Homo sapiens: one gene and its partner. The protein of the gene in region 1 purifies or fractionates together with the protein of each later gene. This does not show direct contact. Each region holds a gene or a part of one and is shown on either strand. Other genes may lie near its edges.

Evidence for each region. The genes of interacting proteins can lie anywhere in the genome.
Region 2: the proteins of TRIM58 (region 1) and KRT5 purify together in Homo sapiens (affinity purification with mass spectrometry, with the first as the bait; 2 studies listed by BioGRID). This does not show direct contact.

The regions. Positions count from the first base shown.
Region 1 is NC_000001.11:247,859,776-247,867,414, reverse strand, and holds part of TRIM58 (E3 ubiquitin-protein ligase TRIM58), read right to left. Parts: intron 6,799-7,639; coding exon 6,703-6,798; intron 2,711-6,702; coding exon 2,480-2,710; intron 1-2,479. UniProt on the Homo sapiens protein: E3 ubiquitin ligase induced during late erythropoiesis. Directly binds and ubiquitinates the intermediate chain of the microtubule motor dynein (DYNC1LI1/DYNC1LI2), stimulating the degradation of the dynein holoprotein complex.
Region 2 is NC_000012.12:52,517,062-52,524,557, forward strand, and holds the start of KRT5 (keratin, type II cytoskeletal 5), read right to left. Parts: upstream 3,334-7,496; 5' UTR 3,236-3,333; coding exon 2,681-3,235; intron 2,100-2,680; coding exon 1,885-2,099; intron 1,103-1,884; coding exon 1,042-1,102; intron 932-1,041; coding exon 836-931; intron 694-835; coding exon 529-693; intron 172-528; coding exon 46-171; intron 1-45. UniProt on the Homo sapiens protein: Required for the formation of keratin intermediate filaments in the basal epidermis and maintenance of the skin barrier in response to mechanical stress.

The sequences.
Region 1 (7,639 bases):
GACAAATCTCTTTTCTTTAAAGCTATACAAAGTTTAGGTTAATTCCTGCAACACCTATCAATTTAATTATCTTCTGAATTAATAATTCTGCTACTTGGATATTGTAACAGAGTAACATTCTGCATGTAATTCAGACGGAACAGGATAAAATAGATCCTAAGTACTCATAGAATTTATTTGAGGGGCATGGATAGGTTCCTCAAATAAAGACACAAAATGTTTCCCTAAATATCTTTATAGGAATTATAAATTCCTAATTCTCTGAACCAACGTACCAGAGCTATTCCTATGAGGAGGTTATCTAAATAGATTAATAAAGGAAGCCTTTAATAACTAGTAACATTATTTTCTCAAAGTAGATTATTAAATAAATATATCTGTGATACATTTATTATATTAATAATTGTATTTGGGATACATTTCCCCTCTCCCCTTAAAAACAGTTGCCAGTCAGATAAGTTTTAATGACATAAAAGCAGGGGAATAATTTGCTTTACCCTGTATGGGAATGTCAGGCCTTGGTCTTGGCCTTCAGGGGTAAAATGTAGCTTATTAGTACCAGGGAAGAAAGGGAAAGGAAAGTATAAAAATATACAGCCTGGGCAACACAACCAAGCCTCATCTCTACTAAAAATTTGTTTTAAATTAGCTGGGCGTGGTGGTGCACACCTTTAGTCCCAGCTACTCGGGAGGCTGAGGCACAAGGATCACCTGATCCTAGGAGACTGAGGCTGCAGTGAGCTATGATTGAGCCACTGCACTCCAGCGTGAGTGACAGAGTGAGATCCTGCCCTTTTAGAAAAATAGATAGATAAGATACCTTATTTAAGAATATATCCTCCCATGCCAGGCGGGGTGGCTCATGCCTACAATCCCAGCACTCTGGGAGGCCAAGGCAGGCAGAGCAATAAATACTATTGTTGAAATTGTCAAGCCGGGCACAGGGGCTCACGCCTTTAATCCCAACACTTTGGGAGGCCAAAGTGGGCGGATCACCTAAGGTTAGGAGTTCAAGACCAGCCTGGCCAACATGGCAAAACCCCATCTCTAGTAAAAACGCAAAAAAAAAAATTAGCCAGGTGCGGTGGCACATGCCTGTAATCCCAGCTACTCAGGAGGCTGAGGCAGGAGAATCGCTTGAGCCAAGGAGACAGAGGTTGCAGTGAGCCAAGATCACACCACTGCACCCTGCACTCAGCCTGGGCAACAGAGCGAGACTCTGTCTCAAAAAAACAAAAGAAAAGAAACCGTCAAAGTTCTTGTATTTTGCTCTCTGCTATTTGGAAAATTAATTCCTTTCTGACTCTTAGTTTGCTAACAAGGAAATGAACATAGCAATAATAATAAAATATAAATTTAATATATATAAGATAAAATGAGACAAATTAAATGGCTTTATAAATTCATCTAATGGTCCCCTGCCTCATAATCAGTCCTGTTTAGTCATTGTACTTGCAAATATTATACAGACAGTTAATAGGATTATTTATATTCATGGTACTTTCAGTGCCTAGAACTGAGTCAGAAAAGGTGGAATCCGTGGGTCAGCTTTTAAATGAGAACATGCATCACTTAGTTTAGAATCCCCTGCGTGAGTCACTGGGGAGGAGATAGGAGTCGGTCCAGATAAATTTCTGTTGCCATTGGTTCTACCAAGAAAACATGGATCTATCAACAACTTTGGCTTTCCCTGTTCACTTGGGATATGATGCCTCACAGAGGATTAAAAACAAAGATTTCCTTTCACTCTTACTCGTCTTTCTGCTCTCTAATCCCAAACAGACTGGGAGGAAGCTGCACGGGAGTCCACGTAATCCCTCCTCGCCATGCCTGGAACGGGCATGCAATGTGGGCCAGGAAATCAGTGTTTGCTTTACAATCCAATATAACAATTTCAAGCTGGACAATTTAAATCATTATTCATCCTTCTGGCCAGTGACACTGAAATGTATTATGCAGACTTTCTGTGCTAGCCATCCCTAAAAAACAGCAATGCTATCATGGACAAACTGACTCTGAGGTTTTAGGAATTACTTCTCAGCCAGCAGAGTGTAGCTTGTCCTTTCCCTAGCTGTTTAAGTTTTCAGAAATCATTAATTTTAAGAATTCTTTAGTCCTTAAAACAAACTATATGCTGTTTGTTTGTTTTTTGAGACAGGGTCTTGCTATGTTGCCCAGGAAGGTCTCGATTTCCTTGGCCCAAGCGATCCTCCTGTCTCAGCCTCCCTAATAACTGGGACTACAGGCATGTGCCACCATGCCAGACTCAAACTATATGATTCTCTAGAATCTCATGATTCTGATGCCAGGAATGGCTTCTGAGTAAATTCTAGGGTGTTTAAGCTGCCTTCTGAGTAAATTTGAGGGTGCCCTTTTCCTAAAGAACATAAACGCCAAAGTGTTTGTCTCTGAAAGCCATTGTACTAGTCTCTGTCACCTGAGTCTCACATCTGCCTGCTTTTCTGGCACCCGGCCTCACCTCCAGCAGACCCAGGGCCGGGCGCTGGCACCTCTCCTGCAGCTCATCCGCCAGCTCCTTCAGGGCCTTGCTCTGCTGGACCAGCCGGCTCTTGCTCTCCCGCAGTCTCTGCAGCGTCGCTCGCTCCTCCGCCTCCAGCCGCCTCAGCTGCCGTTGCTCCTCCTGGGCCAGAAAGCCACGATGCTTCTCAAACTCCAATCTGAAGCGCTGCCTCTGCATTTCCACTTTCTCCTGAGGTGACACCGTGGATCACATCGTCAGTGCTTGGCCTCCAGCAGCCATGTACAGGACAGTGCTGGAGAAGGTAATGTCCAGACTTCCCCGGGCTCCGTAACTCTGTGGACTCACTGGTTGCATCCTAACAACATGCACAGACTGGAGTCCATTCATATAAGAAGTAGCCCAGGAGAGTTTTCAAATTAAGTTTAAAAAATACTGTTGGACTGGAGTTCCCATTTTGCCACAGGCTTGGGGGCAAGGCACTTTTATACTGAAGTTTCAGTACCATATACAAAATGTGAGGTTTTGGGGAGGTCGAGGCAAGAGGAGTGCTTGAGGTCAGGAGTTCAAGACCAGCCTGGGTAACAAAGCAAAATGCGACCCCATCTCTAAAAAAATTAAAATGAACCGACCAGGCATGGTGGTAAGCCCTGTAGTCCCAGCTACCCACAAGGCTGAGGTGGGAGGATCACTTGTCTAAGAGCTCGAGGCTGCAGTAAGCTGTGATTGCACCACTGCACTTCAGCCTGGGTAACAGAGCAAGACTCCATCTCTTAAAAAATGTGGGGAAAAAGAGGAGTATGTGGATTACAGCTAAATATCTATTAAACTACAAGAACAGTGATTAGCATAGAGCAGTCACACAGCAGAAGTTACTATTTACTACTAGATCAGTCGCTAGAACCACTAGAAACAACTGAATGATGAAGAAATGTTTGTTTGAATAAGAAAAGGCTGAGAGATGAGAAAATATGAATGCTGTTTCATAATATGGTAATAGTGAACACAACCATAAGCCTAACATTCTCTACAAAGCCAAGAAAGAACTAAGTGATGCTCAGGCCACTGATTTCAGAGTTCACGTCAGAGAATTAATCCCAATTTCTACCTGAATCTCACGTCTTCAGTTTCTGAATAGACCTAAGGAACATACTTCGTCCCAGGCTTAGTTTCTAGATTTTCTTCTCTCAAGATAAGTATATCGAAAACTAACTTTAAGCTGAGTACGAGAGGTAAATTATTCCCTCAAAGTATCTATACCTCCCATTCTCTGTCCTGTTTTATCGATTTATTTTATTTTTTGTATATATTCATGGGGTACAAATGCAGTTTTGTTACATTGTTATACGGCCTTGTAGGTGAAGTCATTTGCCTGGTTTTTTTTTTAATCTTTTTTTTGAGACAGAGTCTCGCTCTGTCACCCAGGCTAGAGTGCAGTGGCGCGATCTCGGCTCACTACAACCTCCTCCTCCTGGGTTCAAGTGATTCTCCTGTCTCAGCCTCCCGAGTAAGTGGGATTACAGGCACGCAGCACCATGCCCAGCTAATTTTTGTATTTTTAGTAGAGACAGGGTTTCACCGTATTGGTCAGGCTGGTCTCAAACTCCTGACCTCACGATCGGCCCGCATCGGCCTCCCAAAGTGCTGGGATTACAGGCGTGAGCCACTGTGCCCAGCCTATTTGCCTGTTTTTAAACGTGATAACTTCTTGCTTTGACTAAAAGGCATGAGCTATCACCTTTTTAAACTAAACATCCCCTAAGACTTAACTACTTCCTTCCATTTTCCATCTCTACCTCCTTCCACCATTTTCTAAATCACCAGATTCAGAAAACTTCATCTTCTTTCTGAAATCAGCCAAGTCTGAATTCCATACACTGATTCCTGAAAGTGTAACTCATGTAAATATGAGAAGCTCTCTTCATATCAGAGGCTGTGCTGTCGTGGGGTGGGGCAAATAACGCAGCCACTGGAGAAGGGTAGAGTCATACCTGGGGCACGAGGGGGTGTGAGGTGGGAAGGTGGGAAGCGATTTGCCTGCAATCCATCTTCCTTTCACACCACCCTCTTGAGCACAACTATATCTGCAGACAGAGAAAAAGGAAAGGTGGTTTTGCAGTATTTAGAATAACTTTTGACCAAAGATGTGTTTGCTGCATTTGGCTCACATGGAGACATTCTTGATGGTAATGATCATGCAAGTTTACTTGGCTTAGAACAGGGATCTTAGTATCATCCCTACTTAAGAATAATCTGTAGAGGGCTTAAAACATGCAGGAACTCAGCTCTCCGATATGGGGATTCTGATTTTATAGATCTATGGTCAGGCCAGGATTGAAAACAACTGACTTGTATTTCAGCCTGAAAAGAACAAAAATTATCAATCAATATTACAATATTAAATAATGTACATCCTACCACTATGTACATTATAGGCAAGTAATGAACATTATTTAATACTGTAAAGCTTTGTTCTTGTTCTTTTTATCTCCATTGCCACTACCCAATCGAAACTATGCTTTACTAGCTTGATCTTACTGCAGAACCCACTGCTATATCCCTATCACCTAGAATTGCATCTTATACTGTCACTACTAGTTTAAAGATATTTGTTAATAATATTGATAAGTTTGTCAGTATCAACGTTAATAAGTTTAAATATTTCTTCACACATCTGAGTAACGTTAGGTACTAATGTTATTAACATCAATATTATTTAATATTGATAACTTTTATCCTTTCCTATCACTATCTACATCATTTACCTATAATGTACATTTTTCTTTTCTTTTTTCCTTTTTTTGTCTGAGACAGAGTTTCACTCTTGTTGCCCAGGCTGGAGTGCAATGGCACGATCTCAGCTCACCACAACCTCTGCCTCCTAGGTTCAAGCAATTCTCCTGCCTCAGCCTCCCGAGTAGCTGGGATTATAGGCATGTGCCACCACGCCTGGCTAATTTTTTTTTGTATTTTTAGTAGAGACGGGGTTTCTCCGTGTTGGTCAGGCTGGTCTCGAACTCCTGACCTCAGGTGATCCACCTGCTTCGGCTTCCCAAAGTGCTGAGATTACAGGTGTGAGCCACCACGCCTGGCCTTAATGTACATGTTTCTTCTGGGATAAGTGTTATCTTTTCCTATCCGTATATATCTATATTGTAATCTAGTAATGTAGTAAATAAAGAAAAATATAGTTTAAAAAGTCTTTATGTAATATCTGTATAAAGACAGAGTATAAGACTAAATTTTCAAAGAAAACAAGAAGGAAATAATTATAAATATATAGAGTGATCAGAAAAGAAGGGTTATTTGGAAAAGGAGAAAGAATAGGAATATTCTGCAAAGTATAACCTATTATATATCATATTATATAATACATTATATGAATATATAGAACTATACACACAGTTTCTATACGTAGTTTCTCAATCTTGACACTACTGACATCTTGAACAGATCATTTTTTCCTCACAAGATATGGGAACTGTCCTGTGGACTACAGGGTGTTAAGCTGCATTCCTGCCTCTACTAGATGACAGGTGCACTGCACCCACCCCTCCTCAGTTGTGACATCCAAAAATATCATCTCCAGAAATTGCAAAATGTTATCTTGGGGGGCAGGTATCGCCTCAGGTTGAGAATCACTGTGTGTGTGTGTGTATGTGAATCACTGTGTGTGTATGAATCACTGTGTGTGTGTGTACACGTGTGCACGCACATGTGCATGAATGAAACATGGAATAAAAAGAGCTAGTGAGGTATAAAAAAATGGAATATGTGTATGTATAGATGATAGAAAAAAAAGGCTAAACGTTCAGATTATTACCCTGTATATAAGATGATCACCTTGGGCTACACTTCTTCTGTTACAAAGTTGTGAAATATTCATTATTTCATTCACCTAACAAATATTTTCAAACTGGTAGCAACAGTATAAGATGCTATTCTAGGTGACAGGGATACAGCAGTGGGTTTTACAGGAAGATCAAACTAGCAAAGCTATTTAATTATAATTTGGATTGGGTGATGGCAGTAGAGACAAAAAGAACAAAAATGAACCATATCATTTGAGGGGACGGGATGACCCAGGATGGCTCTGAGGTGCTCTTGGGCATATATGGAGATGGAACAAAAGTGCTGGAGAATGGAAGATGGTAGAAGAATTACTGACCCGAATCTGGATCCTTCAAACAGGCAAGCCTCCTAAAGCCCCAACATGGTCTTACCTTCCAAATGACAGTCTTTTTCCCCACGTTGGCCTCCTGAGTCAAGGCGTCCTCCAACTCTTTCCTCATAAGTTCCAGAGCCATCTGGAGCTTTACCTGTTTGGGAACATTTCAGCTGTTACAGATGCCCTCAATCTGTACCTAACGTCACACAGATGTGTGAGGAAATACAAAAGTCAACTTAAACAGTCCCTAGAAAGCACATAAAAATGTTCAATATCATTAAAAACTAAACATAAATGTACTTAAGTTTTAGTGTCAGGGTCTCGCTCTGTCACTCAGGTTGTGCAGTGTTGCGATCATGGCTCACTGCAGCCTCAAACTCCTGGGATCAAATGATCCTCCCACCTCAGCCTCCCAAGCAGCTAGGACTCCAGGCACACATCATTACATTCAGCTAATTTTGTTTTCTGTAGAGATGGGGTCTTACTATATTGCCCAGGCTGGTGTCAAACTGCTGGCCTCCAGAGAGTCTCCCATCTTGGCCTTCCAAAGTGCTGGGATTATAGGCATGAGCCACTGGGCCTAGCTCCTTAAATGTATTTTAATACCAGATACAATCAAATATTTATCTAAAAGTATGCTCACTGCATTGTTATATACGATAGCATAACTAAACTAAAACATTAAAGATAGGGGAGAAAAAAATTATATTAACTGGATAGAATTAAAATAAGATGTTACAGAATGTTTAATGACTAGAAATACAATGATAATGTCCAATGAATAAAAATATTTTACAAAACAACATGAATTTTGAAAAAAAATGTGCTGGTAATGAATATATTAAAACTGGGCTGATGTAAATGAGAATGATATTAGATAAAATGTCATCTATTGGTGTTTGGATGAAGAGTGATGCTATTATATCTCTATATTTCATATATTTCTCTATATAACTATATTTATACATTTCTCTATATTTATATATTTCTCT
Region 2 (7,496 bases), on another chromosome or scaffold:
TTAGAACTCAGGCCCCTTCCTTGCCCTCTTTCAATCTCACCCTACCTGTTTCTTGACATTGTCAATCTCGGCTCTCAGCCTCTGGATCATCCGGTTCATCTCAGAGATCTCATGCTTGGTGTTGCGGAGGTCATCGCCATGCCGGCCAGCTGTCTGCTGCAGCTCCTCATACTGATGCAGCCAGGAAAGAGGAAAGATTCTGTTTATATGAGAATGGGAAGAACTTTCCCAAAGTTCACAGGCAGTGAGTACTAAGTGGTGGCAAATAGTGTGGGGCTGGTTCAGGCTTTTCCAAGGCTGAGCTAGTCTAGTGCCTTTGCTCTCCTGGAGACACTGGTGTGAGATTCAGAGTGAGATTATTTCTCAGGTCCTTGGGTTTAGATGGAAATTGTCTACACAGCCATTCCTATAAAGCATCCCAATGGGCTTCAGCAGGTTCCAGGAGCCCCATTCTTAGTGTCGTCATGGCCTAGAATCCTAGACATGGGTGTGTCCCCTCACTCAGGAGACAGTCATCAGAGCACCCACCTTGGTCTGATACCAGGACTCGGCTTCTGTCCGGCTGCGGTTGGCAATCTCCTCATACTGGGCCTTGACCTCAGCGATGATGCTATCCAGGTCCAGGTTGCGGTTGTTGTCCATGGAGAGGACCACTGAGGTGTCAGAGACATGCGTCTGCATCTGGGACAGCTCCTGCAGGGAGATTTGGAGTCGGTCATCTGGTTCTGTGTTGTGTTATTTAATGTCAGTTCCATTCAAATCTTTCACTCATTGTGATATGACAACTTGAGGAAAAAAAACCCACCCATGTGAAAAATTTAGATAAGTTTCTTACCGCATCAAAGAACATCTTCATGAAGTTAATCTCATCCATCAGTGCATCAACCTTGGCCTCCAGCTCCACCTTGTTCATGTAGGCAGCATCTACATCCTGGGGAAACAGGGATGATTGGCACTGCACACACCGTCACCCTACTCAAGTGAGCTCCACGCTTAGAGAGCATAGCTGCAGGCTGCTGGTTCTCTCCCACCCACACGCACCTTCTTCAGCATCACAAACTCATTCTCAGCAGTGGTACGCTTGTTGATTTCATCCTCATACCTGGTGGTGAAAGGGATGGGAAGTGTTTGTCAGAGGATGAGCAACAGGTAAGGGGTCTTTATTATGCAGTCAACTGTAAGCCTACTTTTGCAGTGGGAAGGGGCTTCTCCTCATAGGCAGAGAGGGAGGGGACACTGGTAGCATGAACCTCTGGCCAAGGTCCCTCCCCATTTAAATACTGCTTTCTCTGTAACTGCCTACCATATAATAATTCTATTATTGCTCTAATTCAGTTGTTTCAAGCAGATTCCTGCAGAAAAGCTGTGCTGTTTCTCCCCAACTGCATTACCTAGTCAATTTCTCTAGTGTTCTTTTTTGAGCTTTCAGAGGCTTTAAAAAAAAAAAGAAAAGAAACAAAATTAAATCTAGCATCCTAGTTGCTGGTTCATAAGACTAAAGAAATTACTTGAGCCACCAAGCTGGGTTATGTCACCAGCTCCTGCTTTGAGACAAATCTATCCAAAGGCCCATGTACCGGGGAGGAAAGTCCCAGAGAGCAAGCCTTACATCAGGGCAGATTTCACCAGGTAGTGCCAAGGGCACAGAGCATGTTGCTCTGGCTGTTGACTAAGTTCCTTGCAGAGGGCCTGAGCCTGGGGCTGGAACTTTCTAAACATGAGCCTGGCTTGTGTATTTGTTTGTTTGTTTTAGTACTGGAGGTGTCCATGGAAGGTATATCCTCCCAGCCCCAAAGGAAGGCATGGTAGTAGACTAGTAACAAAGCCCATCTGGTACCAAGAAGACACCACCCTCCCCTGTGTCCACCCTCCACCCCAACTCACTTGTTCTTGAAGTCTTCCACCAGGTCCTGCATGTTTCTCAGCTCTGAGTCCAGGCGGCCCCGTTCCCCCACGATGCTGTCCAGCTGCCTCCTGAGGTTGTTGATGTACTGCTCGAACAACGGCTCCAGGTTCTGCCTCACAGTCTTGGTGCCCTGCTCCTGCAGCAGGGTCCACTTGGTGTCCAGAACCTTGTTCTGCTGCTCCAGGAACCGCACCTGGAGGGGAGCAGGGTTTGAAGATAGAGAAACTTGGATTTCATGTTCTATGATCAACTCACTAAGGTGCCTCCCACCTCTTTCCGTCCCTCTAAAGCTTTTCTGTGCACTGTGCCTGGCCCTGGGCCCCAGGAGGGGAGGTGCAGACTGAGGCACCCAAACTCACTTTTCCAGGGGGAGATAGGACACCTATCCAGGGCACAGAAAGCACTAGGAGTGCTGCTTGGAGTGTGTCCCGGCTCAGGGGTGGCTGCAAAGGCACTCAGGCTGCTGCCCATGCACTTGTCTACCTTCCTGTACAGTCAGCCCCTTTATATATGGCATGAAATTCATCTCTCTGTCCAACAGTTGTTAAGAGGCCCTTGTGAGCTAACCTCTGAATGGGAAGAAATAATTCTCCCTTCCCAGCTGCCAGTCTAATTCAGAACGTGTCCACAAATCCAGGGCACAGAAACAAACGGAAACACAGAACTGTACAACTATAAAAGTATTTGCACAAAGCCAAAACATCTTCCTTCTTTCTCTCTCTTTGGCATTTATTTCAGACCCACAGTGATTTTTTACAAAAGATCGTAGCTCACCTTGTCGATGAAGGAGGCAAACTTATTGTTGAGGGTCTTGATCTGCTCGCGCTCCTCGGTCCTCACCCTCTGGATGCTGGGGTCGATTTGCAGGTTGAGGGGAGTCAGGAGACTCTGGTTGACAGTGACCTCTTGGATACCTCCAGGAGGGCAGACAGGAAAGCCAGGGCCACCGAAGCCACCTCCAAAGCCAGCTCCGCCACCGAGCCCAAAGCCACCACCAGCTCCACCGCCGAAACCAAATCCACTACCGGCACCACCTCCAAAGCCATAGCCGCCTCCAGCACCAGCACCAAACCGGTTCCTGAAGCTGCCACCACTAGTGCTGATGGATATCCTCTTGGAGCCCCCCAGGTTGTAGAGGCTCCGGCTGCCATAGCCACCCACTCCACAAGCACCCGCAAGGCTGACCCTGCCGAAGCCACCACCACCGCCACCCCCGGACCGGGACACGGAGGTGAAGCTGGTGCGGGAGACAGACGGGGTGATGGCAGAGGCGGTGCTGAAGCTACGACTGCCCCCGCTCCGGAAGGACACACTTGACTGGCGAGACATGGTGGCTTGTTCCTGGTGGAGCAAGAGAACCAGGCACTAGTGGGTTGGGAGGTGCTGGAGAGAACAGAGCTCAGCAGGACGCAGAAGGTGGCTCTGTTACCCAGGAACGGTGATGCCCCCTTTTTATCCCTTCCAGAACTGGGCTGGGCGAGAGAGCTGTCGAGCTGTGAATGATTAAGTGGGCTGGGCATGCCTGGGGGGCAGCTGTGAGCTCACCGGTCACACCTGCACAGTGGTGTGGGGTGCAAACGCTTTCTTCCTGGCAGGCTCTGCTCAGTTAGAAATAACCTTGCCTTGCAGCACTGATCTCTTGGCAGCAAGTTGGTGACGCTGCTAGCAAGTATGTCTTCACCATAGAGGCTGGGGGCTGTGAGCAGCCCAAAAAGGATGCCAGGAACTGAGGGGGCATTGGCATGGCCAGTGTCCTGGGGACTCTTACAGGACCAGGAGTATTGACAACCATCCCAGTACGGTACATGCTGAGCACCTGCCCTTCCAGCTTGGGGAAGCTGTCCATCAGCGGGGGGCAAACGATTCCCCAGTGATCTGCTCTTACACTTTTCCAGGCAGCAGGTTGCTGCAGGGTTTTCCCCTCTGGGAAAGGCAATCTGTAGCCTTATATTCTTGGTTATGTGCTAGAGGGAAAATAGAGTTTCATCCTTTTCTGCACAATTTTTTTCTTAGGGAAGGCACAGCTATCCCAGAGCCCACTGGGCAGATCTGCCTGCAAGGTTTAGGCCAGAGAATGTGGGAAGCCCTCAGCGCCCCCTATAAACCACTTTGACCTCTTTAAGGCCAGGTTTATCCTTCCATAGCTCCTCCTAACTCAGCATTTTTTCTGCCCTTTGACCTTTTCCTTGCTCTTTGGCCTGGGCAGGACTCTGTGGGGGGTTTAGGAAACCCGGGGATCCCATGCAATCCCTTAAAAAAAAACCCTGAGACTCATGGGCTATAGCGTCTCTCTTTGGGGGTAGCTACTCTGCCGGTTCCCCAGCCCCCCAGGTGTGTTCCAGCAAGCTCTATTCCACTAGGGAAGAAATGAGTCATCGTATGTGTTGATACAGGCTGAAGGCCGCCACAAACACATACCTGCAGGAGCTTCTAATCTCATCAGGAACATGTTGAGAGTCTGACGGCCTGTTATAACGGCGAACCACCCTGTTCCAAGCAGCGGGACTTGCTCTGCTTTCTCTATGCTGTAGCCCACAGCCTCCTTCAGGGCCAAGGCAATGGAAAACGGGATTCTAAGTCTATGGATTGTCCTGCCAGAAAGGCTAGCCAGAGCAGGCCTGTGGGCCCAGGCAGCTGGCATGACAATCTGCCAGCTGCTTTAGGGAGGGCCCTTTGAGATCCCCTCTGCAAAACTTGTCTGGGGGGTTGTGGCACCAGGTGGAGGAAAGGGGGTTTCTGATGAGGTTTTAACACACGTCTGTTCTAAACCACACCCACTCTTTTTGGCAGCAGATCTGAGTGGGGCCACCTCTCTGCCGTCCCCCAAATAGAAGCAGGGCTCTCAGGCAGGACAGTGCTTGGGCTGTTCAGAGTTTCGGGGGCGCCCTGTGGCCCGAGGCTGGAGGTAGGAATGCAATGGGGATGGCTTCAAAGCCTCAGGGAGGAGGGGCTATATTCTCAAGAGTAGAAGAACAGGACCAGACCCAGGCTCAGGAATCTCTCACCAGGGCCTGCGGTTGGCCACAAGGAAGCCAAGGCAGTGGGAAAATGACTCCCTGGTGCTGAGGATCAGCTGAAACAGTGACTTCTCACCAGAGGGCTGCGATGAGCAAGCAGCTGACAGGTCAATCTCGGCAGACAGACCAATGGCCGGAGCCGGTCTTACAGGTCTTGAGCAAAATGGTTTGGGTGGCCTCCCTGGCTGGAGCATTTCTGAGACCCTCAGAGATGAATTGTGCTGAGCTCACCATTTTCACATTTGGTTGCTTTCTGGAGAACAGATGTGAGTGTCCTGGAGGCCTGAGACATACCAGGGGACCCTCGGCTCCTGATAGAACAGAACAGATCCAAGCCTGAAGCAAGTGTCTGAGGACTCGTAGTGGGATGCTCCTGCTCCACTCAAAGATCGATATCGGGGTATATCCCCACCACCACATACACTCACAGGTCCCGGGTACAGACCTCACTGCCCTCAGGGAAGCCCCACCCCTCCTGAGACACTGGGACATTCTCTTCTCCCCATTCATTCTCCTCCCAGCTGTGTTGTGAAGAAAGAGGACTTGGCAGAGCAGGAATGCGTTCTGGCTAGTCTGAGGATTGCTAGAGTGTGCCAAGCTCAGATCCATGTGCCAGGGACCAACGGTGAGTGTGTGGTGCTCCATGGGAGCAGGGAGCATGTGGGTGCTCCATGGGAGAAGCAGCAGCACTCTTCTATCCGAGCTTCGTGGGAATCCTCCCATGAGCAGGCAGGGCAGCCCCTCCCTCAATGCCAGACCTGGACAGGTATAAATAATGGAGCCGCTCCTGGTGGGGAGCCAGGCACCAGCACCACTGCAGCTCGGGAGAGTCCCACCCCAGCCTGGAATTTCACTGTGGCAGGAAGGGAGGGATTGTGTTAGGCTCACCAGGGAGCTTTCCTGCTGGGCACCCCACAGAGGCAGTTCCCAGGCTTGGTGGGACATGTTGCTCAGCTTCTCCTCTGGGTGCTGCTTTCCTTGTCAGCAGAAGACAGTGCAGGGCCCGCCCTGCTGCTCTCCCCATCAGAGAAAGGACAGTAAGCTGGCTGCCCTGACCTCTCTCGCAGAGCTGTGCAGGGAATGTAGGACCTGGTCAGCATTTCATACATGGAGAAGCCCTTCACAGACACCAGGGAGAGGGTGGTATCCATTCGTGGAACAAGGGTTAGGCAAATCCTGCCATCCCAGCCCAGGATTCCTTCTCCTCAGAGCCTCCACTCCAATCTGTAGGGCTTTAGTAGAAGATACATTTAATAGAGCATGATAAATAGAACATGTTCCATAAAACAGCATTTGTACATATCCTCTAAGTCCCCCCCAGCAGGGCAGTCTCCAAGGTTAGGGAACATCTCTGCATGGCCCACACCCTCAGCCCAGCCTTGGGCACTGGAAGTGTTCTGCAGATATTTTTTGGAGTGAATTGACAGACAGAAAATCCTCTTCCTCCGCTCCTTCCCCAGATTGTTATGTGAAGCCCACAATGGCAAGAACCTCAATTGCTTTTGCACCAACCTATATCTACACCAACCTATGTATAACAGAATGTATATACATTATATATATTCACATATATTTCTGTGAATCCTCCAGCCCTATGCTGAGTCTCAGAGTCTTGTCCATCTGATTTTGTCTCTCAGTCCGTGTCTACAGGATGAGTCTGTTGTCCCCTTCACACTGGGTATGCTCTGTGTTTAGGATTTAGGATTTAATCTAGCATTTAGGATTCTTTATTCCTTAGGCTTCCCTCCATCCTTCTTCTTCCCTCACCCTTATTCTGAGGGTGTTCTGCATCTGAGCCCACTAACAAGTAGCCTGCACGTGCCACCCCAGCCCCCAGGCCCCTCCAGGAGAGAAAGAAAGCTTTAGTGGCCTCAACTTTGCAGCCCTTCCACCTCACGCTTGTTCAGCACAAAAAGTGGGGAGCAATAGTTGAGGTGTGAGTCACCCTATTCATTGGGCTATGGTTGGCAGCCCCATCAGGGAGCCTGCAGCCAGATTCGCAGGATGGGGAAGGGCAGATGGAACAGCGGGCCAGCCCAAGATAGCTCTTCACAAAGCCCTAGCCTCAGGGGGAATTGAGGGAAGAATTTTCCTGCCTCCACCCAAAGCCAGCGGAATCTTGCCCCCATCCCAACCTGGGTCCCAGCTCTGGTCCTAGCTAGATTCTCAGAATCACAGGGCCCTGAGGGGAGTGGCCACTCTGGATCTGCAGAGCTGGACACACCACCCCCTCCCTCCTACAGCCCAATGTCTCTAGGGCTTTCAGACCCCAGTCTGAAAACCGGACTAGGTAGAAAGGCAAATGTCCAGACATAAAGCAACTGCTCAGCCTTGGCTCAGAGGGCCTTTGGAGGTGAGTCCCTGCTGCCATTATTGAGGTCATAGTGACAAGTTACCCCCTGGAGTTGAGTTTTTCTTGTGCACGGGCTTCGCACACATTGTGGGTCACAGCATAGGTGCAAAAGCATGTGGCACCACTCCAGACCATGTGTTGGTCCTGACCCAGTCCTTGGATGGGTCTGGGACCCTGAGCAAGTTGCCTAACCTCTCACTGCATAGTTTTGTCCAGTGCA